Linked DNA regions of Homo sapiens: region 1 is linked to region 2. The links come from fine-mapping of genetic effects on plasma protein levels. A gene starts in region 2. The other region holds a variant in brackets. All regions are shown on one strand. Distances are between the middles of the regions.

Region 1 (16,391 bases), 26 kb after region 2:
CTAACACGTGCAATATTAATGGGGGCCATATGCTACTTCTCTCTCAGCAGCCTCAATCACACTGATAACATTGAAAAAATGCAAGCTTGTTTCAAAGGAATAATTTTGACCTCATTTCTGTGAACAGGAATTTATATTTTACCAGGCAATCATTTCTTAGTAATATAGTTCCATTTATTTTCTTAGTGAGTTAGGAGGAAAAACAGTATGTAAAAAGATTTGTAACTATACATTTCAAAGTATTTAAACAATAGTAACAGGGTTTAAATGTATCAAGAGTTCTGGTTACTTTTATAGTCATCGATATTATGTCACCAAGTAAGTAGGGAACAGAAATGTGTTACAAAGATAAATGAAGTAGAAATATAGAAAGAAAAATAGTAATTTTAAAGCAACTTTAAAATAAGCAAACATGTCTTTATAAAAAGGAATTGAGTAGGAGGAACAGAGATCAACAAAATTATTGTTTTTTTTTCTACAATACCTTATGTTTTATTACATGCTGAAAAGATCGCCACAACTTAAATTTCCTCTTTTTTTCTCCTCCTTAGGCCAAGTTCACAGATGACTGCAAGTTCAGGGAGCGTTTTCAAGAAAATAGCTATAATACCTATGCCTCAGCAATACATAGAACTGAAAAAACAGGGCGGGAGTGGTATGTGGCCCTGAATAAAAGAGGAAAAGCCAAACGAGGGTGCAGCCCCCGGGTTAAACCCCAGCATATCTCTACCCATTTTCTGCCAAGATTCAAGCAGTCGGAGCAGCCAGAACTTTCTTTCACGGTTACTGTTCCTGAAAAGAAAAAGCCACCTAGCCCTATCAAGCCAAAGATTCCCCTTTCTGCACCTCGGAAAAATACCAACTCAGTGAAATACAGACTCAAGTTTCGCTTTGGATAATATTCCTCTTGGCCTTGTGAGAAACCATTCTTTCCCCTCAGGAGTTTCTATAGGTGTCTTCAGAGTTCTGAAGAAAAATTACTGGACACAGCTTCAGCTATACTTACACTGTATTGAAGTCACGTCATTTGTTTCAATGTGACTGAAACAAAATGTTTTTTGATAGGAAGGAAACTGGAATTCTTTGTACTAATACAGGGAGCACACTCCTTCAGTTCAGCAAGACATAAAGCCTTTTGCTTTATGCTTGAGGGATATTTAGAACTTTGTATTTTCGGAAAGTTAAATAACAGGGACTACGTATTTTTCTGACTTTTACAGATTAACCTGAAAGAACATACATGATACATTTTTATTTTTGGTTTCCAAAGAATATTTTGATGCAGATAAAATATTTTGTTAACTTTTGTTTTTTTTTGTTTGTTTTCTTAAAAGTACCTCTGCATTGAGCATATTTTCTTACTTTTATTATTTTAATTAATATGACATAAGCAATCATTTTATGCTGTTTATGAATTATAAATGTGTTTATAGCTCATTTGTAATATGGAAATCTTTTACATTTTTCCTATTCACTGCACTTTTTTATTGTTTTTATTTCTAGCCATACCTCAGATAATATGTTTAGTTTTACATTTTAAAATGTTTAAATTCTCTTTCACAGCACCAAAGGCTCAGCTTGGATTTGTGTGTATGTGTATGTCAATTCATGACATTATGTGGAATCCTAAACCTTTGGTGGCTGGGATATGATGGGTTAGAAGCAAGGAGAAAATATAAGGACTTTTTGATGGAATTAAATGTGGGAGGTAAGGAAAAGGATTTAGAGGTAAAAGTACACTAAGTTTGCAACATTTATTGAGATCTAAGTCTGTCTTGCCTTCATTTCTCTTTTTATCTCCCCCTTGCCCTCATTCTTGAACAGCTGGAGGAATACATTTTATTCTGTCCATGAAGCATACACTATGAAATTCAAGTGCTTAAAAATACTTCTATGACTCTCTGCTATCCCACTGTATAGATCCACAGGGAGCAAACACTTAGAAATGATAGAGAACTGAAGGAGATCAATGGTTTAACAGTTATCCATGCCAAGTCCCATTGTCAGAAATATTCTTATTACTCAGTCAAACACTCTTTGAGCTTCCCTTCCTAAAGGTAACCAATCCAGTGAATAGATGTGCCCTTTTATAAGGAAACTTCTGATGTTTATTAAAAAAACTGGCCTTTTGATAGAGGTAACTTAATTTGGGAATTTGTTGTGTTGAAATGGCATTTAATTTCAACCTAAATACTGACTGCTGGACATAAATCACAGAAAATTTAACTTAAGAAAATTTACAAAATTTATTCTCAGGTAATCATTTTAATAAAGTTCTGCAAAATACACGTTTATCTTACATTCAGAAATGTGGCAAAAAAGGCATAGCTAAAGGCTAAACATATGGCTTTAGTAGTAACAAAAGGGTTCATAGAAACTTCATGGTTTGCATTTAAACATGTTTAAAGTGTACTTATAAACTATTTTTTTCTTAAAGCAAACTATGATTTATTTTGGTGCACAAATACAAAGTGGAAACTTACCAAAATTGAACTAGCTACCATATAAGCAGATTGCTTTAATTTGATGGGAAAATAGTACACACATATATATAACAAATAATATATTAAAAAACCCATCCATCAACTAAAACATTATATGTATACATCAGTATAGTGTTTTATTATAAAGCCAATTATCTGATTAAGCATTCTTTCCACTGAATGCATAATGTTTAAATAGCATAAAATGAAATGCTACAAAAATTGAACTAATTTATACTTTAAAGTATTTCTGGGTTAAATGAAACAATGAAATTTTTTAGTATGTTCAACTCTCATCCAAATGGCATATGACCCTGTTTACACAGCCTAAAGCTAAAAATATTACTCTAGTTTATTCTAATCTATTGTTAAGTATTGTGCACTGTATACCAAGTTCTTAGGGCACATGAAAAATTTTAGCTGCCAAACAGGAACTAGTAAACATATGTTCCTAATAAGTGAAGGGAAAGATAATAATGATGGTCAACAATAAGCCACGTCAATGCATAAGTTGTATAGGCTAAATGTTGCTTGTAGGCTACATTAAACTCAAATGTAATAGTTTATCTTATACTCCTGGTTTGATTTGATTAGCATATTAACGTGAAAGTAGGATAGCTACTAAATATATATTATGCAAGTCAGGAATCATTAATTTCAAAATTTAAAGCCATGCTAAAATTAAAAAGAAAATATTAAATTACACAATTACACTTGTCTTTACTGGCCATACAAAATGATTTTTTTTTTTTTTTTGAGACAGAGTCTTGCTCTGTCACCAGGCTGGAGTGCAGTGGCATGATCTCGGCTCACTGCAACCTCCAACTCCCTGGTTTAAGGGATTCTCCTGCCTCAGCCTCCCAAGTAGCTGGGATTACAGACTCATGCCACCACGCCAGCTAATTTTTGTATTTTTAGTAGAGACGGGGTTTCACCATGTTGGTCAGGATGGTCTCAATCCTGGCCTCTTGATAGTCCTGACCTCATGATCTGCCCACCTCGGCCTCCCCAAAGTGCTGGGATTACAGGTACAATGATGTATAATTAATGCTTAGTGAAGCATAAAGTTACCTACATCAATTAATTAAATGAACTTATGTACAGAAAACATGTATAAATATAAGTCTATACTAATGCTTACAACTTTCTAAGAGGGTTCTTGCTTATGTAGCTTTTTATTATTTTAAGTAACTAGAACCACCAAATATCAAATAAAATTATTTGGTTATGGTTATGTTCATCTAAACACAACAATAACTTTTATATTAATATTTAGGAGTCTATTTTGTCTATAGGTGACAAACATCTCCAGACTAACATGTCAGTTTTATCAATTATATTATGTTTAATTATTTAAGATTTCTTTATGTGGAACATCTATAGAGATAAATAGAAATTTTCAATAAGATGTAGTAACACTGTGATTTATCTTTCAAGAGTCTCTCTTCACTTCCTTCTAAAGAGACTAATTTGAGAGTACAGGTGCATATTAATTTTCTTGGTTCTTTCAGCTGAATTATATTGGTCCAGAAGTTCAAAATCATGTGACAATAATAAGGGATACTGACAGAAGTTATTTCCAAGTTTGTGTATATATTATAAAAATTACATATATAAAACTAAGGCTTTTATTTCTGTTATTTTTAAGCTTTTATTTCTTGTAGCTAAAAATAAAACATCATAAATCTGGTAGGTAAATTTCTTATTAAATCAATCTTGAAATAGAAAATGTAATAACTTTCTTACCATTAACATTTTTTACCCTTCCATAGAAGGGAGGGAATAAATCATGACTTATCCCATTTTCAATAACAAAACGAAACTATGGCACTAACCAAAAACTTGCATTCTGGCATAATTTTTACAGTTGCAGAGAATTGTTTCTGGGCTCATTAAAAAAAGTAGTATTGCAGACATTGCTGCAATGGGAAGCAGACAATAACTTCTTAAAGGAATTCTACACCTCCTTTAAGATTTACTTAATTGCTACATCTAAATTCTGATAATTTAAAATCCATTTTAGGTGATAAAATTTTTTAAAAGTTTTGAAGGAAACCTCTGGATAAATGGACAAGGCCTAATTTTTTTTTGTAGTCAATCCAACTGTACTGGCCAATTTTTGAAATAAGATTATATGATTAGGTATTAGCAGAGACAAAGAGTTACCTCCTCCATCTTACTCTGCCCTATTTGAAAGTCTCAGGGGAGAAAAGGGAACAAGATGCTGATCCAACCTGAGTGGAGTCAGGTGAGGCATCTTTACATCTAAGAATTTTTTTTTAAATTTTATTATTATTATACTTCAAGTTCTAGGGTACATGTCCACAATGCACATGTCTGTCACACATGCACACATGTGCCATGCTGGTGTGCTGCACCCACCAACCTGTCATCCAGCATTAGGTATATCTCCTAATGCTATCCCTCCCCTCTCCACCCACCCCACAGCAGGCCCCGGTATGTGATGTTCCCCTTCGTGTGTCCATGTGTTCTTATTGTTCAATTCCCACCTATGAGTGAGAATATGTGGTGTTTGGTTTTTGGTCCTTGCAATAGTTTGCTGAGAATGATGGTTTCCAGCTTCATCCATGTCCCTACAAAGAACATGAACTCATCATTTTTTATGGCTGCATAGTATTCCATGGTGTATATGTGCCACATTTTCTTAATCCAGTCTATCATTGTTGGACATTTGGGTTGGTTCCAAGTCTTTGCTATTGTGAATAGTGCTGCAATAAACATATGTGTGCATGTGTCTTTATAGCAGCATGATTTATAATCCTTTGGGTATATACACAGTAGTGGGATGGCTGGGTCAAATGGTATTTCTAGTTCTAGATCCCTGAGGAATCGCCACACTGACTTCCACAATGGTTGAACTAGTTTACAGTCCCACCAACAGTGTAAAAGTGTTCCTATTTCTCCACATCCTCTCCAGCACCTGTTGTTTCCTTTTTAATGATTGCCATTCTAACAGGTATGAGATGATATCTCATTGTGGTTTTGATTTGCATTTCTGTGATGGCCAGTGACGATGAGCATTTTTTCATGTGTTTTTTGGCTGCATAAATGTCTTCTTTTGAGAAGTGTCTGTTCCTATCCTTAGCCCACTTTTTGATGGGGTTATTTGTTTTTTTCTTGTAAATTTGTTTGAGTTCATTGTAGATTCTGGATATTAGCCCTTTGTCAGATGAGTAGATTGCAAAAATTTTCTCCCATTCTGTAGGTTGCCTGTTCACTCTGATGGTAGTTTCTTTTGCTGTGCAGAAGCTCTTTAGTTTAATTAGATCCCATTTGTCAATTTTGTCTTTTGTTGCCATTGCTTTTGGTGTTTTAGACATGAAGTCCTTGCCCATGCCTATGTCCTGAATGGTATTGCCTAGGTTTTCTTCTATGGTTTTTATGGTTTTAGGTCTAACATTTAAATCTTTAATCCATCTTGAATTAATTTTTGTATAAAGTGTAAGGAAGGGATCCAGTTTCAGCTTTCTACATATGGCTAGCCAGTTTTCCCAGCACCATTTATTAAATAGGGAATCCTTTCCCCATTGCTTGTTTTTGTCAGGTTTGTCAAAGATCAGATAGTTGTAGATATGCAGCATTATTTCTGAGGGCTCTGTTCTGTTCCATTGATCTATATCTCTGTTTTGGTACCAGTACCATGCTGTTTTGGTTACTGTAGCCTTGTAGTATAGTTTGAAGTCAGGTAGTGTGATGCCTCCAGCTTTGTTCTTTTGGCTTAGCATTGCCTTGGTGATGCGGGCTCTTTTTTGGTTCCATATGAACTTTAAAGTAGTTTTTTCCAATTCTGTGAAGAAAGTCATTGGTAGACATCTAAGAATTTTTATGACATTGAATCAGTCAGCTGGGCTACACATCATCAATCAGTATTTCAGCAATTTTATGCAATAAAAATAATATTAGATTATAAACCAAGAACTCTCATTTATGTTTTAGTTTATTAAATTGTTTTTGTCTTTATTCAGACATAAATATCACAAGTCACTCTCTAGCACCTGTTTTACCCTTCACCATTTGATCTCTAACATGATTTCTAGATTTATTACCAGTGATTGTAGGATTCTTACAATGTTGAAAGTTCTATGAGATCATAAAAAGGGACATAGTTCCTTCTCTAATGAAACTAAATTTACGTCCAGATGAAACTGGACAACCACGTGAAAAAAAAAGCTGTCAATGAAGTTATAAACATAGATCTTTTTAAAAGATCTTTTCTTAGTTTAAAAAATATCCACTGAATAAGTGTGTGAGATTTGATCAAGACATTTACAAAGCTAGGATCGATTTTGGGCTTAGCATTTTATGAAGGATGTAAAAAATTTGAATTAACCTGGAGGAAGAATGGTCAGAGTGGTATCATTGTTGATAATAAATAGCCCTACTTAATTAAACATGCAATTTTAAAAACAGCTCTTTTGTGATTAAAGTTCCCCATTCTACATGAAGTCTTCTAGAAATTCTTGAAGAAATATGAGTAATTTCTTCTTGACATCATGCCTCCAAATAAGATAGCTCAGGACACAATTTTCTGTCACCATTCCCTTACTTTCCCAAAAATTCAGGAAATGTTTTCTGAGATCCCTCCTTGCACAAGGCACTCAGCTAGCAAGACATTCTTGGACTTGCTCAGTGCTTGTTTAGTAGTTCCTTGTGTATATTTACTTCAATGTACTCTCATATTTTGAACTTCTGGAGAAAATATGTCTGCCCTCATTGCACATTTCCCACCCTAAAATCAGGCTAATAAAAATAACTCAATAAATGCTCTTAGCGAAAAGCAAACTTGAATGATGTGTTCCTCTGGCTTAAACACTTTGTAGAGGCTATTGGATATTCTAGTTATTCACAAAACTTAGTGTGTAATTATAATTATAGGTTCCTGGCATATGTTAGTTGCTCAGAAATGCTTTTAGGATGTATACATGTGCTGAATAAGATTTATCGGACAAAAATGATGATGACAGGTAAGAGAATTTCATGTTAAATATGAAATGTCTCCTACAATAAGAGTAAGAACATCCACTGCCCCTCCTACTGTACTTGAAGTTCTCAAACATAAATTTTTAGACCAAACTAAAAATATCAGGCACTTGCAGCTGCATTTAAGTATCAATACATGTCATCATATGACACTTCAATTTCACTAGCAATCATAAAAATAGGTTACTGTGCAAATCCCAGTGCTTTTGCTATTTGTAGGCCAAACAAGCAGTCTAGTAGGATGCCAGTAGGTATCAGTGGGAGAGTAAAGACATTTCTTTTTGGTAATTTATTTCTAGATGTGCTTGTCCCTTTCCCTAGATAAACTCTTTCAGAGAAGACTGACATTTTTCTGTATCCTACAGAGAGATTAGTGAATGCATAATCACACAGTGACAGGTCCAGCTCCAATGTGTTTCTCATTAAATTCTCTGTCGTTCCCTCTGTGGGAAACTGGACAATTTATCAGATTTTCATACAGGGAGGTGAATTTCTGCTGAGGAGGAAACACCAATGTCTTTTACCTTCCTGAGTGCAATTATGGCTGAGCTTCCCTGATAGTACTCCATTTTATGATAGGGTTGTCATTGTAGGATGTGTGCATTCTATAACTTCTGACACTGGTTATATATTTGCACTTTTTAAAGTTAGCTAGTTGTCCTACATTTGCCTTAACACAGAATGTCTGAGATTAAGCATACCTGTATACTAAAATATTAATTGTACAAGGAGAATATACAAAGATTTCTCTAACAGTCACCATCTTAATGGAGCATGTGAGAGAATGAGTTTCAAATCTGGAAACAGAAAGTAGTATAAAAGCGTATGTTCTCAGTCAATTCTT[G/GT]TTTTTTTTTTTTGCATAAAAGATGAATTTCAAAGGGGAGAAAAATATGTTTTCTGTTTAAGTAATTAAAGAATAACCGTTATGGCAATAACTACCATAAATTTTGTCTGAGATCTGGAGTTCCTTTAAGTTATGATTAGAAGGAAAATTCATGCCCATTTATTTATGTTGCCACATTTGTTGTATCACTGTGTAAAACAACAGATCAGCTCTGACAGAGAGTTTGTTTTCACTTTAGATATCATGTTGCCTAAGATTCTCAGCCTTTACCATTTGGTGAGCAAGCGAACAAATGAGAAAAATACACACGCATCCCACCTTGCTGGTGCAGAGCACAAACCACAAGATTTCTCCACTAGTCAAGGGAGTTTAATGTTTAATGACACAAAATCAACTCAGTCTAGCAAAACTCCAAGGTCCAAAGGAGCCAAGCAAACTAAAAGAATAATGATTTCTTGATTGCTAATAATTTATGGCAGAAACCACTAGTAAGTTTCTAATAAAAGCATTCAGTGTTCATTTAACCCCTTATACCTGGCATTATGCTGGGGTTCTGGGAATAGAATTAAACACATTGGTTTGAGGGAAATTTACATTCTTGCTGATAATATTAGGGAAGTGAACCATAGCTTTAGAATACGATATCCAGTTCTTGGTAGGTTAAAAATGACACTTATTCTTGCCAAAGGAATTTAGTATGTTGGGTCACTGTTTACCAGGATGGATCCAAAACCTTAAGCTGTAGTTTACATTACACATTTTAGAAGTAACTCTCAAGTTTCTTTGATGCTCCTTTTGGGAATTTATCGCATTTTTTATTGAATATTAACCTACAGGATGTTATCAAAGATGCAAGATGTTTCTATGCTTATTTTAAGATAATTAGGGATCCAATAGAACGTAAGAAAATTGTGTGCAGGCTTTTCTAATTCCATCTGCTATAACAAACATTTACCTTACAGCTGGGATTGGAAAAGCAATACGATCTGATTCCAGGATTGCTCAGAAATTGGAAAAAAACTCACCTGTGCTTCCCAAATTTATTTCCCAAGACAAAGATGTCTATAGCACAGAAAAAAATGCATGAATTAAAAAATCAAGATGTATTATTAAATATGGTCCTGAGTATTGCTTAACATTTCAGTTCTTTTTCTACCTGTTTGCTGGAAGCAAGAACATTGTTAACAATTTAGCACCTTTTTCATTAAACACCACCTCCCACTGTTGGTCTTAAATAAAGGATTATATATATATATCAGACTTCCTTTGAGAACAGCTGCTGCTTTTTGGACTGCTAGGATTAGTGCAAACAAACCTCCCCCAGGACATTTAAGGGGGTTGGCAAATGTTGCTGTGTCTACTTTGGTTGTTATAGAGGCACCCTTGCAGTGGTTTCAGCCAGCGTTCCTGTAACATTGGCCTGCAGTCAATAAATATTTCATGTCTCTTTCCCCTAGGGTGTGCTCAGAAGACCACCCTGCAAGTTTCTGCCTCTGTGGTCACAGCTTCATGCCGTGGGCGTAAAGGTGGGTGTGCAGCCAGAGGCAGGATGTGCAGGCAAGATCCAATGTGGTTAAAATTTGGGATCACTAGTCTGGCTTTAGGGAATCTGGAGACCATTTCATGTTAACACTCATTCTAAGAGAGAAAGCATGTCCATCAGAGGATTATCATTAAGCATCAGTGTGATTCACTCAAGGGTTAATAGAAAGAAACATTCATAAGAGGTGAGGTTTCAGGTTAAGAGAGAAATAGGAGCCTCTTGTTCTTCTCACCAGAGTGTAGAATGTCTTCTTCCCTTTAGGAAGAAGACCCTCAAAGTTTCCAGAAGTTTCCAAAGTTTCCTAAAGAGACCCAAGTGGGAAAGGATCCATGTCTCCTTAGCTCTTTAAAACATGTCATGAATCAGGCATCCAAACAATAATGCACTCAGTGACTGAGTGAACATCTAGTGAACCGAATGATTCAGAGATTGGTCGAGATTTATTAATTGCCTAAAAAAGAGACTCAAAGGCCAGGGAAAGTAGAGCCAGTTTTGCTTTGCTTAAGAAAATAAGAGGAAAAATAAAAATGATGTCGCACGTTGCTTTTGGGGCCTAATATCACTTTCCCTCCACCCTCGCAGAGGGTAGGTCTAACTCTTGTTAGTTATCATTTGGATGGTTTGCTTAGTTATTCCCTGTCTGTTTTCCATAGACATTGTTTGAGTACTTACTATATGCCAAATATGCCACAAGTGATGGGTGTAGAGATAAATAAGACCTGGTTTCTTCCCTCAAGAAGCTTGTAGTCTAGATGAGAAGACGAAAAATTAAAAAAATATGCTCTATATATCCCACGAGGGCAGAGCTGGACTACTGTAATAAGTACTGCCACCTTACTTTTGAACAGCGCTTTTTAGTTTTAATGTAGCACTTAAAGCATTCAGAATATATTTAGCTGCCTTATCTAATTAGATATAGAAGTAAACCACCTAAAAGGAAATGAATGGCTTCTAAGAAGTTAGCATTTAAACCTAAGATACCTTGATGCTTGGTCCAAATTCCCTTTTCAGTGCTCATAACTCAGCTGCTGAATATGCAGCTGCTCAAGGCCGTGCCTCTTACCTTAGGCAACTACCAAGGTTACATTCATTCCCAGGGTACCCTGAGGCCAATAACTAGCTGATTCAGAAATACAATGGCCTGACCCCCTTGCCACGATTTTTAATCAATATGAAGGGCCATAGCAGCTTCAAGGCACCCCTAGGATCAGCTGAGGCCCCAGCTGCCGACATAGAGAAGACAATTTTCTCCCTCCACCCTGCCTTTTTCATTTCCTTACAGGTAGGGACACAGATACAAGACAATACTCTCGACTACATTTGAATTCTAGATAAACAATAATTTTTTGTATAAGTATGTTCCAAATATTGCATAGGTATCCTGTAGTTTTATTTGCTAGGTCTGGCACTACTATGTACAATTGTAACTCTGAAGATCACTCCCTGTGAACGTGCTGTGTGCTACTCTCAGCCTCAGAGTGTTGCTGGGGAATCCATTCTCTGGGAAAAGGTATTGTGGTCAGGAAGCACAAGGGAGGGCCTGGACTGCCAGAGAAAAGTGTGAGGGGAATAAGAAGAGGATCCTCTTTCTACAATCAGAGATGAAGGCATATTTCAACATTCTCATGGGCATAAAGAAGTTTATACTCATAAGCAAGACAAAATTCAAAAGTTTCAGTGGCTATACAAAGCCTAAAATATTCTTTATCCAAAGCGTGATCTTGAGGCCTTAATTCTTTGCTCAGCCTCCCAAAACATTAGCTGTATGTGTTTGTACATATAATACTAAGGCACATGGACTGTCTTTTCCTAAATTATGCAAGGCATGTGATCAATTTGGGACTTATTAATGACATTTCTGAAAGTCTCTCAAAAAGTTGGTCAGCCTTTCTTCATAAAACACATTTTTACATGTTTTACAAAGTGCCACATACACCTGGCCTTTCTGCTACCTCAGCAGCTATTTCTTCCTGTCTCTTTGGCTAGCTCCTCTTTTACCTGACCTGTAAACCTTGTGGGACCCCAGGGCTCAGTTTTTGCCTCCTTTGTGTTCTTTCTGTAAACTCACTTCCTACGTGATTTCACCTCCGCCTTACATACCAGATGTATGCTGACGACTTCCACATTTAAATCTCCAGCCTCAACCTCTCCCAGAATTTCACATTCACGTAGCCAACTGCCTGTTGCAGCAATTCTATATTGCTACAGGATATCTAACAGGCATCTGAAGGCTGACATGTTCAAAACTCAACTCTTGTTCCCAAACCAGTTAAGCTTCCAGACTTCTACAGTTTAATAAACAGCATGATGATTTATTCAGTGACTCGAGCCAAAAATTTGGAATCATTCTTGTGTCTTTCCTTTCTCTCATAACCCTCATCCAGTACGCCAGCAACTCCTTTTGGCTAAACCTTTAAACAAATTCTGAGTTCTTTCTCTGTCTCTACTCCATATCTCATCTTTGGCTTGACCTGTTGCTATATCCTCTCAACTGGTCTCTCTTCTTCTCACTACAGTGGATTTTACAGAGAAGTCAAAGTGAAATTTTAAAAACAGAAATCACGTCTTTTTCCTGCTCAGAACTCTTCAGTGGCTTCCCAGCCCACTAAGATGGAGCTAGTCCTTTCCTCCCTCTCTTGTTCCATCCCCTAGTCTCTTCCACCTCACTAACTCTGCTTTAACCCAATGCCTGGAATGCCTTTCCCCCAATTGTTCAGCTATTCTACTCCTTCTCTCCTCAGAGATGCCTTCCCTGATGACTGTTTGAAGTGTCTTCCCCTACTTACTCCATCTCATCCCCTTCTTATTTTTGTTAGTGCATTTTTCATGCTCCTTAATTATCTTGTATACTTTGGTGTTGACTGATTTCCTCAGGGTTATATAAGTAAGTCTGTTTCCCCCCAATAGAATGTAAACACCTTGTGTAAAGACCCTTCGCTTGGCTTCTTCACTGCAGGATTTCTGGTTCCTGGTGTGGACCTGCCACAGAGGAGGTACTCGATATTTATTTATTTATTGGAATGACAATATTCCCTATTCTAGAAAAGGCTAGAGGGTTGAAAGTAAGTGAACTATACAATTAGCCAGAATGATTAGTCAAGCTTTAATTCTAATAAGCTCTCCAACTGGAATGCTAAGTTTGTCTGAAAGTGCAATTAATTCTCTGGCCGAACATGAAAAACCTCCCAACGATTTACCAATTTTTCAGTAAGGTAAATTTTGTAGAAGGATTAGGAAAGCCTTAAACCCTAATGTGGTATCACCATGTTTGCAAGCTCCCCTAGACAATTTATCTATGCCCTTGCTGGATGTGGTCAAGATTCTAAGGATCTGCCTTATGATCAACACTAAATAGCATATTAATATTAATAAATATCTGTATGGCGTAAAACTGAGACATTCACCAGCAAATATACAAATACATAACTACTCTTTGATTAATTTTAGGATAATCCATCAAAAGTAATGTGAATATTATACTTTCTTTTTTTCCAATATTAAACCATTTTTAATTGACACATAATTGTACATCTTTATGGGATACAATTTGATGTTTCAATACACATATATGTTATATAGTGATCAAATTAGGGCAGCTAGCATTTCCATCATCTCATGTATTTATCATTTTTTTGTGGTGAGAACATTCACAAGCCTCTCTTCTAGATATTTTGTATTATACAATACATTATTGTTAACCATAGTCACCCTATTGTGCAACAGAACACTAGAACTTATTCCTTCTATCTCATTGTAACTTGTACCTGTTGACCTACCTCTCCCCATCTTTCCTTCCCCCCACCCCTCCCCACTTAGTCTCTGGTAATTACTGTTCCACTACCTGCTTCTACAATATCAACTTTTGTATTTGTTTTTCTGTGTTTGACTTATTTCACATAAAATTATATCCTCCAGGTTCATCCATGTTGTCCAAATGACAGGGTTTCATTTTCTTTTATGGCTGAAAAGTATTTTATTGTGTATATTTACCACATTTTCTTTATGTGTTTATCCATTGTTGGACACTAATTTGATTCCATATATGAGCTATTGTAAATAATGCTGCAATAAACATGGGAGTGCAGATACATTTTCAACATGTATATTTCTGTTGGATATATCCCTAGTAGGGGGATTGCTGGGTAATAGGGTAGTTTTGTTTTTAATATTTTGAGGAAATTTCCTACTGTGTTTCATAATTGCTGCACTAATTTACAATCCCAAAAACCATGTGTAAGCGTTCCCTTTTCTCCACATCCTTGCCAATAGTTTTCTTTTGTCTTTTTTGATAATAGCCATTCTAACTAGAGTGAGGTGGTATTTTGTTGTGGTTTTCACTTGTATTTAGCATAAATGATTAATGACATTAAGCATTTTTTTCATATATCTGTTGGCCATTTGTTTGTCTTCAAAGTCTGCTAAGGTCTTCTGCCCACTTTTAAATTGGATTATTATTATTATTATTATTATTATTATTATTTTTGCATTGAGTTCCCTTTATATACCGGATATTAACCCCTTGTCACATGTATAGTTTACATATATTTTCTCCTATCCTGTAGGTTTTATTTTCACTCTTGTTTCATTCACTGTATGAAAGCTTTTTCATTTGATGTAATCCCGTTTGTCTATTTTTGCTTTTGTTGCCTGTGCTTTTGAGGTCTTACTTAAAAAATTTTCACCCAGCCCAATGTCGTGAAGTGTTTCTCCTATAAAAATTATGCTGTGAAGCATTTCTTCCAGTAGTTTTATAGTTTCAGGTAATATTTATTGATTGAATGAGTACGGTCAGTTTTGCTACAACAGTTGTTTCGAAAACCCTAATTTGTTCCAACTCCATTGATAGATTAGGAAACAATTTGAGCATAATGTAAATTTTGTGTTAACTCATATGCAATTTCATCTGTGAGAAACACTAGATATTTCAGCTGAACTGAGCTATGTGGGAATACGCAATATATACATACACATACCTCATGAGATCAATAAGCCATACCTATTCATACCTGGCATTACAATTTTCCATCAGATACCCCTCCTTCAAACATGTTGTGGACTAAATTGTTTCCCCCTAAAATTCATATGTTGAAGTCCTCACCCCTAATATAACTGTATTTGGAGATGTGGGCATTAAGGAGATAATTAAGGTTAAATGAAGTCAGAAGGATGAGTCCCTAATCCATTAGGACTGGTCCTTAAAAACAAAGGAAGAGACACTGGAGCTCTCTTTCCCCTCATGCACAGAAAAACAGTAAGTGAGGAGAAAGCAACAAGGCAACCCTCTGTAAGCCGGCAAAAGAGCCCTCAATAGGAACTGAATCTGCTGGCACTTTGATCTGGGACTTCCAGCTTCCAGAACTGAAAAAATAAATTTGTTGTTTAACCCACCTAGTCTGTGGTATTTTGTTATGGCAGCCTGGGAAGGCTAATACAAACCACTTGACAATACCTCACAAGCCACAACCCTTTCTATTGCTACCCTACTCATGCAGCGCAGCATGCATCCTCCTATTTTTGTCCCTCTTTTTAAGCTTTTTTGAATTTTTCCTCTCTGTTCTCTTTTCTTTTTCTCTTTATCTTTCCTTTATGGTAGAAGCTTTTTTTCTCAGTTTATTTCTTCTCTTCTTCTTTTACACAGAACACACTAGAAACTTAAGTACAAGCAAACTTCAGACCCCTTTAAAGGTAAGATGCTCTATTTATTATAGTATTTGTATATTTCTTAAACTTTTAACATGTTTAAGACTATGTGTACTTTTTATTGGGCCCTTATCCTTTTTTCCATGTCTCTGAAGAAGGTTTGTTTGTTTGTTTTTTGAAACGTAGTCTGGCTCTGTCGCCCAGGCTGGAGTGCAGTGGCACGATCTTGGCTCACTGCAAGCTCCGCCTCCCGGGTTCACACCATTCCCCTGCCTCAGCCTCCCGAGTAGCTGAGACTACAGGCACCCGCCACCACGCCCCTAATTTTTTTGTATTTTTAGTAGAGACGGGGTTTCACCGTGTTAGCCAGGATGGTCTTGATCTCCTGACCTCGTGCTGGGATTACAGGCGTGAGCCACTGCGCCCGGCCAGGTTTGTTTTTAATTTTATTTATTTATTTACTTTTATTTTACTTTAAGTTCCAGGATACATGTGCAGAACATGTTTGTTTACATAGGCTTGTTACATAGGTATATGTGTGCCATGGTGGTTCACTGCACCTGTCAACCCATCATCTGGGTTTTAAGTTCTGCATGCATTAGCTATTTGTCCTACTGCTCTCCCTCCCCTCGCCCCCTAATGCCCAACTAGCCCCAGTGTGTGTCCTTCCCCTCTGTATGTCCATGTGTTCCCATTGTTTAATGCCCACTTACGAGTGAGAAATTGCAGTGTTTGGTTTTCTGCTCCTGCATTAGTTTGCTGAGAATTATGACTTTCAGCTTCATCCATGTCCACGCAAAGGACATGATCCCATCCCTTTTAATGGCTGCATAGTATTCCACGGTGTATATATACCACATTTTCTTTATCTAGTATAGTA
Region 2 (16,391 bases):
GCAAACGATGAAAACACTTGTACGTACACCCTTCCCCCACACACACACTCACACTCACACTCTTTCAAATCCTCACTCCCCTAGAAAAAGGAAAGAGCAGGCGGAAAAAAAAAAATCATTCACCATTACCATATACTTTTAAATGCTGTAGAGTCTCACTTCTCTGGGGGAGAAAATTTAAATAATTATTAAGCCATCTTTTGAAGCCATTCCTTTTAAGGATCTTCATTTAGGATTTCAGTTATTGTGCATTCTGGGGATTACAAGGCAGTGTATACTGACAGATTTCCTTTGAGGAACTTATGATTTACTTAAGACCATATATATCATAAGAAAATTGAAACAGCTAAGCAATAATCAAATCACAATATGTTTGATGGTGACCCTGGTTACAACACAGAGTTCCACTGTGTGCTCCTCTAGCTCCCAGCAGAAAATTTGCTCATTTACAACCAAGAAAAGTCGTATTGTAATATGCTGTATGCTCCTAAAACCCTCCCTTAAGGATTACACAGGAGCTTCAAAGATAGGGAAGACAGCAGGGTGATTTGCATGAAGTAAATTCTTTTTTTAAAAAAAAATCTGTGAATGTAAGATTAGTCACTTTTTTTTCTTTTTTTAGGAGCTAATTTAGGACCTTCTCATTGCTCTGACCTGGGCCAGCTACTGAAATGAAAAGCAAATGGACCAAGGGTGTGGACACAGTAGATATGAGAAGTAACAGAATTTATCAGCATGATTGTCATAATACGAGCAAATGATCACAACATTAAAACTAAGTTGTATGTGTCATGTCTTTCTACTCCATTTTAAATCTCATTTTGTGTATGACTGCATGGGAGGTAAAGTGGGGACGTGTCGTAAGTTCTATTTTAGTTGTTATATACCATGATTATCAAATGCTCCTATAATGTGCTTATTGAATAAATGGTCCAAGATTGTTGGGCTAGCTAATTTGCAATTTGAAAAAAAATGATTAAAGGTGACAAAAGTGCAGTTTACAAATAATTCCCTTTTTAGAGGACACAGGAAAAGGAATTCTTTTCTTTCTTTCCCTTCTCTCTTTTTCTTTCTTTTTTATTTTTGTTAACAGCTTTTGTTTAAGTCAAAATCATCTTTTTGACTTCCCATAAAGTGTCTGGTTTCAGAAAAAGTATGCAAAGAATATTTCTCTAGAATGTGATGCCTAAACTTTTCCTGAAAGAAAACAACAAAACACACCAAAAACTAAACTGAAGCAAATTATCCACTTGCTATTGTTGAGGACATCTTTCAGATTCGGTGCAGTCCCACCCCAATAATTGGAGTTGCATCTCCAATTATTGTCCCCCTGAAGAAACCTAAGCACTTTATTTTGAAAAATAAATAAATAAAACATTGTCTGTGTGTTCTGGCTCTCAGACTTAGTCTGAAAAGTCACCTTTGATCAAATTATTTTCTGAACAAACAGCCTTTGAATGGGCTGGTGAATGGATAGCACGTGCATCATAGTTCCAGCAGCTTCCTACTGTTTTCTTGCTGGTACCAGGCTTGGTCTCACTTCTGTTCTCTTCCTGCCCTTCCCATTTGGCACAGGAAAGATGTTCTAGAAGAGGACATACGTTTTTCCCCCCATCCTCTATTCCCACTTTTCTTGAATGAGTACCCATTTGCTTATGGCCTGTCTTTGTGGATACAAACCAAATGCTAGAGCTATTCAAATAGCAGCTATGCTAATTTATCTTTTTTTTTCTTTTCTCATAGATAAGAAAAGTCTGATTTCCACCCAATGCACTCCTTTTGAGGAATTAAGACTGGAAGTATAGGCCGGGCTTGGCGGCTCATGCCAGTAATCCCAACACTTTGGGAGGCCAAGGCAGGCAAATCATTTGATCCCAGGAGTTCGAGACCAGCCTGGGCAACATAGCGAGACCAACCCCCCTCAACCCCCATCTCTATGAAAAATGCAAAAACTAGCCAGGTGTGGTGGTGCGTGCCTGTAGTTACAGCTACTCAGCAGGCTAAAGTGCGAAGATCACTTGAGCATAGGAGATGGAAGCTGCAGTGAACCCTGATTGTGCCACTGCACTCTAGCCTGGGAGACAGAATTAGACCCTGTTTCATAAAAAAAAAAAAAAAAAAAAAAAAGACTGGAAGTACTGCACCCCTCCACATATGTTTAGAATGTCCCCTTTGACATTATTAGATATAGACTGTACCAGTAAGAAAACCCATTACAAAGAGCAGAGAGGACTTTATTTGGGAGGCAGGGAAAGGTGGTATGATTTTTAAATCATGATTTTCATATGCATGTGTAAGGAGTACAGGGAATTGTATCCTTTATCTTCTACGGCTGGCCTTAGACAGGATAAAAGGCTTCCAGTTCTTAAGAGAAAGTATTTCCCTACAACTGGGTAATGCAGGCTAGGATAACTGGGGGTCTATAGTGGTTTGGGACTTAGTGCATGGATGTACCAGAAGCTAAAACAAAAATAGTCACTGGGATAACTGGAAAGCACAGGAGTTGGGCTTTATGAGAAAAACTGATTGCCTTGAGTTCACTTAGGTCACAAAGTACCTCTCTTTAGTAGCAAATGCTGTTTTACTTTCTGACTTCACAGATATAATGTCCAGTGGCCAATGGCCTTTTGCAAACAGGCCTCTTCTCAGAGGGAAGGACTGGACCCTGGAGAAAGAAGTCTAACCTCAGGACTTGCACAATTTGTAACTATACCTTCATCACCCTAAAAGTAGACACTGCACACATTCTTCTGTCCCTCTTGGTCTTTGGTTCTTCCTCACACAGCCGGCCCTTCCCAGCTCAGTGCTCCTTTAGCCACAGGCTATTTGTTGCTGTAGTTGCTGCCAACTTGGCTGGTGAGAAGCCAGGCCTGGAGGAAATAGAGGGTCCTGGCAAGAACCTGGACTGAGGGCCCCCACCAGGTTAGCTTCCGAGTCCTGCAATGCACTGTGCTTCTGTCTTAGTTGGCTTGGGCTGCTATAACAAGACAACCATGGACAGAATGGTTTAAACAACAAACATATTTCTCATGGTTCTGGAGGTTGGGAAGTCTGCGATCAGGGTGCCAGCATGGAGGGACTCCTTCCTTGTTTCCTCATTTGAGGGATTGGGGTTGTGAGAGGAAGAAAGCTCTCTCCTCTTTTTATAAGGGGGAGGCAGAGGGGCATGCACTAATCCCACCTCATGACCTGATTAACTTCCAAAGCCCCATATCCAAATACTATCACATAAAAGAACAGAGTTTTAACTTGAATTTTGGGTACCCAAACATTCAGTCCATAGCAGTCTCTACTAAAAAGTGTATGCAATTAGAGGCCACTGTGGGGCTCCCAGGACCTGATTAACAAAAGATAGTACTATCTGGGTATAGCCTGAGAGTATGAAAGGGTGATAGGAATATAGAGTTGGGTAGGGGTGGGGTGCAGAGGCTTTTGGGACCATGTTTGAAACAGCTATCCCAGGAAAGCATTCTAAAAATCCTTGGGTTTTCTTTGGATCAAACAAAGAAAATTTGGCCTTGCCTTCAAACTGTACAGTCATCTTAAAGCTCAGAACAGGCAAATTTCTCATGGCACCTGCACCTCCAGGAGTGGAGATTTTGGGGTAACTGAGGCTCTTGGAACAGAAGTCTGTGTAAGATCAGCCTGGCACAGTGGCAGCCTGGTTCCTGGGTCAGACAGCCTCCCAGGACAGTGGCTTGCATTGCCAGGGTTGTTCATTCTATTCCATCATCTATCTCTTGTCCGTCCTTCCAACCCAGCATGAGACATTGTAGGATGAACAGTCTTGCCTTCAGGACCCTTGCCTCAGTGAGGCCTGGCCTCAGTTTAAACCCAGGGGAATGTTGTAAATATTGAGACGGTCTCTAGAGTGAAGGAAATATTGGGCTCTGACTTGACTTATACACCCTGACTTCTCTTTTCTTAGGCTTCTGGGTTCCAACCAGAGGTTACCGGTAACTTTATCTTCTTTTGCATTGATTTCTGTCTCTAGTAACCAGATCACACTTGTAGTTACGAAAGGGATAGGGGAAATTCACCACCAGTTTTCCACACAGAAATAGGGGAGGCCTGGAAAGAAAGTTCAGATGCTGGGGTCCAGGAAAAGTGACCCTGAGGGGGTTGGTCTAGGAAATGTGAGGCCTAGTGGGGTGAGACACCGCTGAAAGAGAGCTCAAGAAGAGGGGGTGGGGACCTAAGCCGAAGCCCGCGCACTCACTGCCTGGCGCCTAGGTGACTGGTGGAATCTGCTAATCTGTTGGGTAGTTTTTCCGTCGTCTGTCAGGTGGCGATGAGTGGAAACTAATCTTCGGGGCCGTTTGTTTTACCTCTGCAGGAAGCAGGGCGCTTGCGCCTTCTCCCAACCTTGCTTTCCTGGCTGGGAGAACGCAGGAATTGGAGAACTGAGCTGTGGGCTCGAATCCGCGCATGACCTGGAGATCTGGACCAAGCTCCGAGGCTTAATGGGGAAAGCTGAGATGTCCCCAGCAGGGGGCTTTGGGCGATTAACTTTTCGGAAAGTCGCCAGAGAAAGTGTGGTGCAGGCTTGCGCTCTTTTGGGTGGAGTTCACAGGAGTAGGGCTCGAGGTAGCCAAAACAGTAAATTGAGATAGCTCCCCGCCCCACATTCCCCACTGCAGAATTGCTGTGGACAGAGGCTCTCGAAGATCGGCTGCTCAGAGTGGTAGGCAGGATGTAGACCAGGGCGGGCGCAGCCCTGGCGCATAGCGCGACCCTTTCGTCTCTCAGCTGAGCTGCGGAGGAAGGGGGCTTGGCAGCTCAGCTCACGGAACAAGCGCAGTGCTGTCTTTCATGTTTCACTGTTCAGTTTTTGTAGCTTTTTTTAATGGCCCCAATACATAACTCTCTTGTGAAAAAAAAAGTTTAATAGCATCCACCCTACACACTTATGATCACCAATGGAGATTTCCTTTTAAGCCCCGAGTATGTGGGCACATTCGGCTGCCCGCCCAACCCCCAATCCTCCCACCCCAGTATGGAAGACAGTCGGGCGTTGAGGACTGGTTTGCCAAATTCAATCACTGTCCACAACAGCTGGTCACTTGTCTCCTTTTAGTGAGCCCCTGACTCTTTCTAAGCCCTTGGAATCCAGAAAAGTGTATCTTGCCATCCTCCAGTTTGAGGTAGACTAAAGCCTGAGCAGGTGTCTTTGCCTTCCTGGGTCATCCCTAGGCAAGGATTTGATCCCCAGTTTGGCTCTTGCGGGAGTTGAGAGGGAAACAAGGATGGTTGTTTCAGTGCAGGCGGGGCTGCAGAAACTGAGAGAAGGGAGCAAAGACAAGAGGCTGATAACAGCTCCAGAAACTGGACTCCAGAGTCCTCTTGACCTCCTGGGTTTAGACAGGGGGCTGATAGTGCAGCTGGGGCAGGAACCACTCTCCTCCTCTTTCAGCAGACTCCTTGGGAAAAGGAAAGGGAGAAACAAGCAGCTGGATTTGCTTTGGAGAATCTTCGTCACTTGAGGAATGGGCTGTGTATTTGCGTGGCATGGGGGAACTTACAAATGGCATTCAGCAGCATCAATGTGGCTTAAACCCTGACAGCTTTGCCACAGACCTCAGGGCATTGCCTGAAGAAGGAACAGCACCCAGGTTCAGAACCATCCTACAATCATCCTCCCCAGAAGAAGGTGATTTCAGTCAAGTAGACCATTCTGAGAGATACTGTGACTGTTCTCAATGTCTACTTTTAGGGTTGCCTTGTAAGGATCTGCCTACCCACCCTAGTTAAGGGAGAAGTATATAACTTGAGCCTAGAACAGTGGACAGGGGGTGTGTTCAGCTCTGGACAGTATCTCATGTAGTGTGCCCATGTTATGCACATCTATGTGTGATGTCCTCTTTCTTTATCACAGTGGTTTTACTACACTTTCCAGGTAACCTTCTGTTTTACAAGTACTTTGATGTTACTCTGGCGGTGGAAGATTCCAAACCTGAAAAATCTGCATTGTTTTATATGCGTTTCATTATTGAGATGGAAAACCTTAAGTAGGTACTCAATAATGGGTAAGGCCGTTTCTTAGCTTCAACCTTGGTTCATCTGAATTGACCTTATCAGTCAATAGCACGGGCCGTTTCATTAAAATAACCAATGAATAATGTATCATAGCTTAGTTTAAAGTTTCAAATATGTTTTTAGACAGAAACATTCCAAGCATGCAAGTCAGGTGTATTTCCCAGATAAATAACAGTCTGGGGACGTTGCCCGTACAGGGAAATTCTCTGTTCTCAAGGAAATTTTCCCTTCTCGGGTTTCCTGAGGTTGAAATCCAGCGCGCACGTCATTAATCATTCACTGAGGTCGGTCCCTCAGTCAATGGCAGGTCTGGGTAAGCTAAAGCGAGCAGTTAGCTAACCCTTCCTGCCACGGGGATCCTGGGGCGAAAGAGGACAACTGGGCGGTCAGTTACATGTGCTGGTGTCCAGCCGCTGCCTCTCTTTCCCCGGTCGGAGCGCGGGGGTGCGTGTGCCCTCACTCTCACGAATACAGACGGAGAGCTTCCCAGAAGGAAAAACAAATTCGTCATAATGTTCAGCGCAGCCGAGAGTTTCCAACAAGAAAGCAGCTCCAGTCGTGGCATGATGACTCAGGGTGGCGTTTTAAACGCTGAATAAACCCATTCCTTAGCTCTTTAATAAATCGCTAATAACAGCAAAAACAGCCTTCTCCCCGAACCGCGCCACACCAAAGGCTTCCCAAGTTGGGCTGCGAATCCCTGTTTGGTTTTCCAACGCCGAAAGACGTAGAAGCAGTGGGATCTCCTGGTGGGACGCATTTCTCCAAGGGCTCCCAGAGAGAGGACGAGATAGCAGGGTTTACAGGGCAAAGAGAGGAGAACCTGGAAATCGTGTCCTGGGGGGCAAGAGTGCGTTGCCCAGTCACAAGTGTGCTGTAGAGGTGGGAGAGGACAAGGACCCATTTCCACATTTCAACCCTCCGTTTCTATCGCTGCCCCTGGAGGACTCAGCTGCTAACGCCGAGCTCGTTTCCACGCGGCTCTGGTCCTAGTCGGGGAATCCGGGTGGCCGCGCGACGCGAGAGAACTGCTGGGATGCGTGGCCCTGGTATGGGCGCACCCAGCGTCCGGGGCGCAGGTTCTCTCAGCCCAGCTTCTCCTCCCACTCACTCGCTCGGATCTCCTCCCTCCTTCACATCCCCCGCCCCCGGGACCGCGAGGCTCCCTCCCCGCACCGGCCAGTGAGTACACAAAGCCGCGGGTGAGGGGAAGCTTCGCAGGCGTGCACGGAGCAGTGAGATCACTGGCGTTATAAATATCCCGGTGCCAGCGCGGAGATCCGCTCGGGTGGCCTCTCTCTTCCCCTCTCCCCTTCTCTTCCCCGAGGCTATGTCCACCCGGTGCGGCGAGGCGGGCAGAGCCAGAGGCACGCAGCCGCACAGGGGCTACAGAGCCCAGAATCAGCCCTACAAGATGCACTTAGGACCCCCGCGGCTGGAAGAATGAGCTTGTCCTTCCTCCTCCTCCTCTTCTTCAGCCACCTGATCCTCAGCGCCTGGGCTCACGGGGAGAAGCGTCTCGCCCCCAAAGGGCAACCCGGACCCGCTGCCACTGATAGGAACCCTAGAGGCTCCAGCAGCAGACAGAGCAGCAGTAGCGCTATGTCTTCCTCTTCTGCCTCCTCCTCCCCCGCAGCTTCTCTGGGCAGCCAAGGAAGTGGCTTGGAGCAGAGCAGTTTCCAGTGGAGCCCCTCGGGGCGCCGGACCGGCAGCCTCTACTGCAGAGTGGGCATCGGTTTCCATCTGCAGATCTACCCGGATGGCAAAGTCAATGGATCCCACGAAGCCAATATGTTAAGTAAGTTACTCGCTCTCCTACAAAACCCGTCCTAGGCGGCCGCGGAAGATTCGGGAGGGACAGCAGGTATTCGCCGGGACACAGGCTCACCTTCCTGAGCCCAGGCCACTGGGACCAAGCTGATACTCAGAAACAGCCGGGCGGGTTGGGTGGAGATGCATCTATATGGCGTGCGCACACGCACCCCTCTCCTGGGCATGAGGAATTGCGATTTCTCAGGTGTATGTTACCTAGAGGCTGGTGCCCAGACGGGTACCTTGTTTTCAGTTTGCTCTAGCCTCAAAGACGAGTCCCCAGCCATGACAGGAGAGAACAAAAAACTCATTTCTTCTCACTCAATTTGTTTACCTTCTGCTTATGAACTAGCCTGGCATTTTTCATTAGGCATCAAAGGCAGCCCTTCTCCCTATCCATAACTGAAGTTATTTTTTGAAAAGAAGAATCAAATCCCAAATACTTCCCTCTTCCATCCGCTACCATAAACCTCAAATTAATATTGTATATGTATATGTATATATGTATATAAGTCTATGTATACAATGTATACACATAGGTAGATAGATAGATAGATAGATAGATACACAGATAGATAGACAGACAGATAGATAACTAGGGGACACCAGACAGACATTCCTGCTTGGAAGAAGATTGTGCTCTAGAAAACTGGACGCGTTTAGAGAGGGAGACATGATAAACATTGAAATTACTAACTCCAGAGTTGGATTTAACAATGTTTAGTATCTTGAGACCATGACTACACCGTATTAGGAGAGTGGCCAGCCTTTGGTCCCCAAGAACAGTTAGGGGAAAGTTCCTTATTTTAGAAGAAACGCAGAGGTTAAATTTGGTAGGGGTGCAGATTTTGTAGGACTTTTTATAAACAAAGTTTTAAATTTTCCCTCTGAGTTTTTTCTTTCAGCACGCTCTCTTTTTTCCTTTCTCATCTCCTCTTCCCTTCCACCCCATCTATGTTTCCAGACCATCGCAGCCACTCCTCTGGTTTCTCTTCACTGCCTCTAGGCAGCTGGGGGCAGGGACGGTTTGGGGCTGTGAGTAGGAGTGGGGAGATCTCTGTGGGGCTTTTGCTCAGTAGGGCCAGATCGCTCTTCCAGCGCGGGTTGGTCCACCAGGCAGAGCCCCAGCCAGGGCCTGTCAGGTACCCAGGGAGACCGGAAATGTAGCCAGGAGACAGCAGCGCTCACAGTCACCTGGTTTCAGTGTCAGCCTGGTTGCTCCTAGATGTTCCTAACTTGCTCCATCTCAGACCAAAGACTCCACGGGCCATTGGGCTCCTTCTTACACAGGCTCCAGAGGAGCGTGGACACCACCGGCGGTCTGAAGATTTGGCAGCCAGCAGTCTCCAGAGGGGGGTCGGAGGCGCGCAAGTGGGTAAGGCGGTAGGCTGGCTAGCCTCCTCCGGTGGGTTAAGGGGGCCTAATGCGGAAGACCTGATGGTTCATGCTGAGAGAAAAGCAGGTCTATGCCCGCCCCTCTGCGCCTGTCTAGTCTATCTGATCGCGCTGATTCAGCAGCCTGCGGCGCACGTGGTGAGGGCGCCTGGAGCGCCCAGCTGGAGAGAGGGCCCTCCGCACACGCACCAGCGAGTCCCAGGGCCTCCCTCACACTCCCGAGAGGAATCTATTTCCATATTTTAGAGTTTATTTCACTCATCGAATAACTGCTCATTTGGGGGATAAAGGGCAAGATCTGTTGGGGTGAAATGGAATTTTCTGAGATTTGAGGAATAATCAGTAACATCTATTTATTTCCATTCGTCCTTCTCATTTTGTCTCAACGGTCTTTTGACTCCATCAGCCATCACAGCTTATTCCCACTTCCGGCAACCTTTCCTTCTCTCTTACAAGAAAACTTTCTTTCTTCTGTTCTTCTTGTAACGACCCGTGGAGTCATTGGTCTGAGATGGAGCAAGTTAGGAACATCTAGGAGCAACCAGGCTGACACTGAAAGACAGGTGACTGTGCGCGCTGCTGTCTCCTGGCTATGTTTCCACTCTCCCTGGGTACATGACAGAGCACCAACAGAGGATAACTTCCGTGAGCTCAAGGGCGGACCCCAAACTAGCAGGCAGCAAGCAGCAGGTTGGAGCCCAGGGAGCTCAGAGAATGCTTCTGGGGAGGGTTTAGGTGTGCTAGAGATCTCAGAAAGCAAGGCTCATTCCCAGGATATTCACCATCTTCTCTACGAAGACACTATATGAGACGAAGGTAGTTTTACAGCTTAGGCCTTGCTAGAGGGGGTGTTGTAGAAAAGCAAAGGGGGGAAAATAAGAGCAGATCAAAAAGAGTGCACCCAGATAAACAAGACATTGACCACTACCCAGTATGTAACATGTACATTTTCTTTTAAAATCCATGTTGAAAGATATCTACAAGAGAACAGGGATGTTTCCTAAAACAGTGCCGACAAAAAGCTTAATTTAAACTTTTTCCTAATTTATTCTTGTTTACAATAACCTTTCAGAGTTTAGTTTCTGTGTCTTTCACATGACTTGCTTTCATTCATGCCATAAATCATGTACCCAATATAAGATACCTATCTCACTAAGCATGATATTTTGGTTACTTTTGTGTTGTTTGTCTTCCATAGAGTTTTTTTTTTTTTCCCCAGAAGAAAGCATAGCAAATATTCAAATCATAGTAATTTTCTGCTTTGTGATATCTGGAGTGTCTAATACTACTTCATAAAATTTTTACTACCTTTGATCAATGCAGAATTTGCATGTAATTTGGGAATTTAACATGGATCTCTGCCATTACCTAGCTGTAAAAGAGAAACAGAAACTTGCTAATTACAATTGGTCATTTACCTCTTTGAAGGCAGTAGTTGATGTTTCCTGACATTCGTGTAAACTAAGGTGTTGGCCATGGCCTTTCTTAGAGTATGTGAGGAAATGTGTTTAAATCTCCTAAGAGAGGCTGAGAGGGCTGGATCAAGGGCCACAGAGGATACCTCAGTTTGATCTCATCTTCTATTTCTACTGTATGTGAGTTAGTGATGATAGAAAACCTATTCTTTTTGTTACAACCCTGATACTTCAGAAAAGTCAAAGCTTTGCCATGAAACTGCATTCTAACAAGTTATTTTAAACCTAATAATATTCTGTAGTATTTGTCTGATAGAACAGATAATCATATGTGTTTCGCAAACTATTATTTGACAGTAAACTTTTTTTTTTTTTTTGCAAATTGCAAATGTTTTCTGGTTTCACCATGAGAAGTGCACCATGGCCATGGACTTTCAAACATAATTTGTTTAGTTTACATGGACCAATTAATATACTCTTAGCTTCTCTTACACAATAATTATCCCAAGTTTTGAACACAGAAAATGAAATCAAGCTCATTGTATATAAATCCTTATTATGAGGAAATACTGTGGAAAAATGAAGAAATATGAACAAGGCAAGATAGATGACCCAACTATTGCATGGAAACAAATGGTTTGGTTTAATTTATACGCCTTCAAGTTTAATGTCAATACAGTGCTTCTGTTGACTTACCTTGGGCCATTGAAGAATAGGCAATCAAGTAGTTGTCAGTTTAGGGAAGAAAAGTTTAAGGCTTTGTCAAAGCGTTTACATAAAATATGAAAATTCCAAGCACATATTTTGGTTAATAGAATCGTCGATGTTACTGCTTTTTAAAAAAATCTAAATTCACTACCAATTTTGGGGTCATGTGGAGTCATTAGACAGTCCCCCAAGCCTAGATAAATCAGAATCTATATCTACTATGCAGAAAAATCAAGTGGAAAATTTCTGTTGCTAATTTAATCAGTGAAGACTGCTAAACTGAATATTTCAAGATTCAGATTTCATAACTTGGCACAGCATATCTGTTACTTTGTGGATGCAAGTAGAGAAACTTCAGTTTTAAAATATTTTTGTCTGGGGATTTTCAGATGCGTTGTTGAAAGCTTCTGAATACATGGAATATCTGTGCTTTTCTATATTTTATTCATTAACAAAAGAGAGAAAAAGGAAAAATGTGTATAGTTGTATCAACCACTATCAGTAGAGCCCTATTATATTAAGAAATCTGCAGAGGACTAAGTCAAAAATCTAGAAATATGTTTTTTTTTACGGAAGTAAGCTTACATCATAATGCATAAGTGGAATAGACTGTGTGTATAAGCTGAGAGACACCAAGACATTCTTGCCTTCTTCAGCCTAGGTGTCAATGCTGAAATTCCACAAAGAGAATAATTCCTTCTGTTAAGCATTCTCCTCTTCTTTTGACCCTCTTAAATGGGAACACCTTAAGAAAAATAACACACTGTCTGTAGCACTTTAATGTGAATTTATTTACACTGAGCCACCCGTCCACCCCGTGCCTTCTCAAGCAGGAGAAGGCCACAGTAGCAGGAGAGTACTAAGACACCTGTCCATACTTGTGTATGCATGGGGTGTCCTGACAAGAGAAAAGAGAGGTAGTGAGAGGATCAAAGAAGGCAGTCAAATTTAGCAAACAGTCATTGACTATATACCATCTACAAGACAAGCTTGGCCTTCCACAGTTTGGCTTAGAAATACTGCCTTGGCATCCATAAGGAGAATTGTAAGTTTCCATCAAATTTAATATGCGTGACTCCCGATGATAAAGGTCAGAAAATTACTGAAATTAAAAAAAATCAATGTCAGAGAAATGTTTTCAGAAATTTATATATTTGTGATTTAAGGCACATGGGTTTAAAAAATTACGTAGAATTCCTGAATGAGTTACTGAGATTTGTCATAGCAAAATCAATAGGCCTGTGATGTTTTGGGGAGGAGGGCAGGAAACTGAACTGTGAGACTCATTGAATCTGCTCCAGAAAACAAGGCATTGTGAAATCACTGCTGACATTACTTTGGAAATTATGATCATAACAGTGTTCTTAATATTAGGTCATAATTACGGTAAGATTTAGAAGATCAATACCAAAGTTACTCACGTGAAAAATAATTCATTCATCTAGTCTCATCTCTTACATCTCCTGCATTCTTTATAATGTTAAATAGAATGACATATGTAAAGTGTATTTTTAAGCTTTCAGTTAAAGATAATTTTCTTAAGGTTATAAAATCTTTTAATTCTCAGGCACTATATCATTTTTATCCTGGAAGTTTTAAGAAGAAACCCAGCAATATGTAATACAATAATAACACTTTCACATATATTATTTCATCTTCCCCATATTTAAAATACATTACATGCAACTTGTACATAATATATACACAGAGTGTACACTGTATTGAAATACATGTTAAATGCATCTAAATGGGTCTTTGTTTAAAGAGAGAATGAGCTAATTATCAGAAACTATTTATTTAAGCAAAGCAGTAGTATTTCTATTAAAACAAATATTTATAAAGCCTTTTTATCTCAACATCTTAAAAGTTAGCATATAAACACATACACTTATGAGACTTTAATCTTTTATTCTGCCATGTATTTTTTCATTAATATACAATATATCTGCATGTTCAAAACCAGATAATTTTCCAGGGAATGGAATTAAAAGCCTCTAACAATCTAGCACCATGAGTAAATTGGAGGAAATATACAATCAAATCTCTCCTGTATCAACTCCATGTTGTCCCTTTTGTATCCATCATTCCACACATATACAATTTCCTTCTTTCTTTCTTTCTCATTTTTGAATGCACATGTTTACATAAATATTCACAATCACATCCCCCATCTCCCAAATATCTAAAATCATTAATGCTATTCCCAATATCATTCCGTATTTCCAATAGAAATTTAACTTTGTATCACTGTTATAGTCATGCTTTAGTAATAATATTATTATAACATATTACATCTGTGTAGAGTAACTTTACAAAGCATTTGGTGTGTTTTGTTAATATTTGATAAAATGATAATGCTTCTAAACCTTTAGAAGCACACTCAAACAATGTTCATAATAAATCCTATTATAAATAGCATTTAAAAACATTTTGAAGGAAAGGATTTATACAGCACTGGTGGTTTTTTTTTTCAGTTTCCTTCTAAAAGCAAAAGTAGTTTCCAATAGTTTTTGATTTTTGTTTTTCAATTTAAAGAAACACCTATTAGTGAACTGGTACCTGCAGTTTCCCTAAAGTGTGTTTTATTTACTTTGGGCTAAAAACATCTATTTTTTAAATAAGCTGTTCAGTTATCCCCTTTTTCACATAAACTTTCTAATCAAGTTTTTTAAGAAACCAAGTTGAATAAATAAACAGCAGTGCTTGCTAGAATTATAGATGTTAGCTCACATTGCACAAAATAAATGCTCAATAAAGTTACTCACATATATTTATAAAATATTTCTTGTTTTTGGTAAACAGAATAATTTTATATATACCTCAAATACTGCAGGGAGAGTTTGCTATTTCAAGAAAATCTGATGAATTTCTCTATTTGGCAGAGTCCTATTGAGATATCCTAATTAGTATATATGCTTAGAATATTATAGATGGAAATATTGAGATGTTCTTTTTTCCATCCCTTTCCTTCTTTGTTTCCTTCTTTTCTTCCTTCCTTCTTTTCCTTTTTAAAAGTAGAGATGCGGTGTCACTATTTTGACCAGGATGGTCTTGAACTCCTGGTATCAGGCGATCCTTCAGCCTCAGCCTTCCAAAGTGCTGGAATTACAGGCGTGAGCTACTGCACCTGGCTTCCCTTTTTCCTTTCTAAGACAGGTCCCTTTTTAGCTCTATTGAGCTAAAAATCTCTTTTTAAAAATTTTGAAATAGACAACTAATAAAACACATTATAGCTCTATTGAGCTAAAAGTCTCTTTTTAAAAATTTTGAAATAGACAACTAATAAAACACATTATGCTCTTTTCATGTTCATATAAAATACATAAATTTATGTTAAATAAGCAGGCTTTCTAATTAAGTGCAGACTATGTGTTTTATCTTATTAAACTACTCTATGAACAGTGGTGTGTAATTCTCTTGATCCAGTGGACGTGAATTTTGAAATTACTGTAGGAGACAGAGGGACATTGACTTCATAATGCTAACTATAAAATACAAAATTTATACAACAATGTAATAAATTATTTCATTAATTTTTTTCTAGGAAATGATTCAAAATGCAAGATGTCTCAAAGCATAATCCATTAAACATTTCATTGAACCAATAATTTCAAGTTATTTATAATGCTTTCAGTATCTTATATGTAGTCTTTAAATGCAGTCACTAAAAGACTGAGTATGGTATATGTTTATTTGTAACTACCATTATAACCTTGATAATTAGAGTAGAGGAATTTATTTAATGTAAATAAGTATTATTTTCCAGACTTTCAAATAGTTATACTAGTCTTGAGCACAGATTTGTGCTTTAATGTTCAAAGTAGTGTATTATCTTTGATGAAGAAACAATGGAGGAGAATTATTTTGAAAAACATTTTTTAAATGTCTTTTTAATTTCTTTAAAACCTGAGAAAACTTCATGCTCATTGTTTACTAAAAGCAACTTATTTGTCCAAATAATTACTGATGAAGTAGAATCAAATTTTTGAATCTTGAAATTATTTTAAATGAACACTTGAATCCTAGCCTTCTTTGTTTTTAACATAGTGAATGTCATGAACAATAAGGATGTTAAATACTAAGTTCTTTTTTAAAATCACAATAATAAAGAATGGAAAGAATCTATGTAGAAATTTAATTCTTCACAATGATATAAATAAGAGCCTGTGTTTTATTTTGGGATTTCTGTCATCCTAGGTGTTTTGGAAATATTTGCTGTGTCTCAGGGGATTGTAGGAATACGAGGAGTTTTCAGCAACAAATTTTTAGCGATGTCAAAAAAAGGAAAACTCCATGCAAGTGTAAGTAGAACCACTTTATATTTGTTAAAGGTGCTATAAAGATTTTACATTTGTAAAACAGAATAATTTTCCAAATTCATAGGTAAGAAAATTTGCCCAAAGAACTTAACTTTTAAAAAGTATTTTTACATTTAACCAAGATAATTTTGTGCGCTTCCAGAAGTAATAATTTAAATATTTAATTTACTTAAAAGATATTACAGAGTCTACAAAAAGTTTAAGCATAAATGTATTTGAAAACAGCATTCTCAAAGGGGCAGCCATCCACTTATTTCTTAGAAGTGGCCCACGTAAGAAGGAATATGGCAATAATATATTTCATCACATTTTAAACTTACAAGTTTATAGTGACTGTATTTGTGCTAAGTAGATGAGGTTCTTATTTAAGTTTACAGGCTACTCATAATACCAAATTGGGTCTCAGTAATGTAAAATATTTTCATATTAACAAGCAGGGAGGGAAAAAACCAATAATTAGAAGACTCTGACTTTCATAGACAAATTTTATTTAATTAATTTGAAGAATTTTTATCTTGTATTTTTGTCACATCAAAAATAAAGACTTCTTAATACTATGAAAACTAATTTTGCATTCTCAAAAATTTATTCAGACCAGTTTTATATATTGTAATCAATTCACAAACTATTTATTTGCTTTGTTATGAAAGTTCCCATTACCTGGGAAGTATTAAAACATTTTAAAGATAATAAAATATGTTCAGCT

Alleles and levels. Alleles are on the strand shown, and positions count from the first base shown. The strength of an association depends on the size of the effect and on how common the allele is.
In carriers of allele G in region 1, the plasma level of the protein whose gene starts at base 7,319 in region 2 tends to be higher than with GT alone (weak association).

The links. PIP is the chance, under the fine-mapping model, that this variant and not a neighbour inherited with it causes the effect. Protein levels are from antibody-based Olink assays in UK Biobank. Linkage for the fine-mapping came from a reference panel and not from the study's own genotypes, which makes the PIPs less certain.
Region 1: its variant is fine-mapped to the plasma level of the FGF5 protein (UK Biobank, PIP 0.91).

Annotation. Positions count from the first base shown.
Region 1 is chr4:80,285,774-80,302,164 of GRCh38, forward strand. FGF5 (fibroblast growth factor 5) reads left to right here. Exons shown (of 3, transcript NM_004464.4): 3 at 552-5,244. The coding sequence ends at 899. Among named protein-coding and RNA genes, the nearest start is that of FGF5, 27 kb to the left of the region's middle. The variant G/GT (reference allele first, on the strand shown) is at 8,329.
Region 2 is chr4:80,259,346-80,275,736 of GRCh38, forward strand. It overlaps FGF5 (fibroblast growth factor 5), which reads left to right and starts at 7,319. Exons shown (of 3, transcript NM_004464.4): 1 at 7,319-7,834; 2 at 15,564-15,667. The coding sequence starts at 7,480. RefSeq lists enhancers at 3,996-4,497, 7,014-7,545, 9,288-9,858.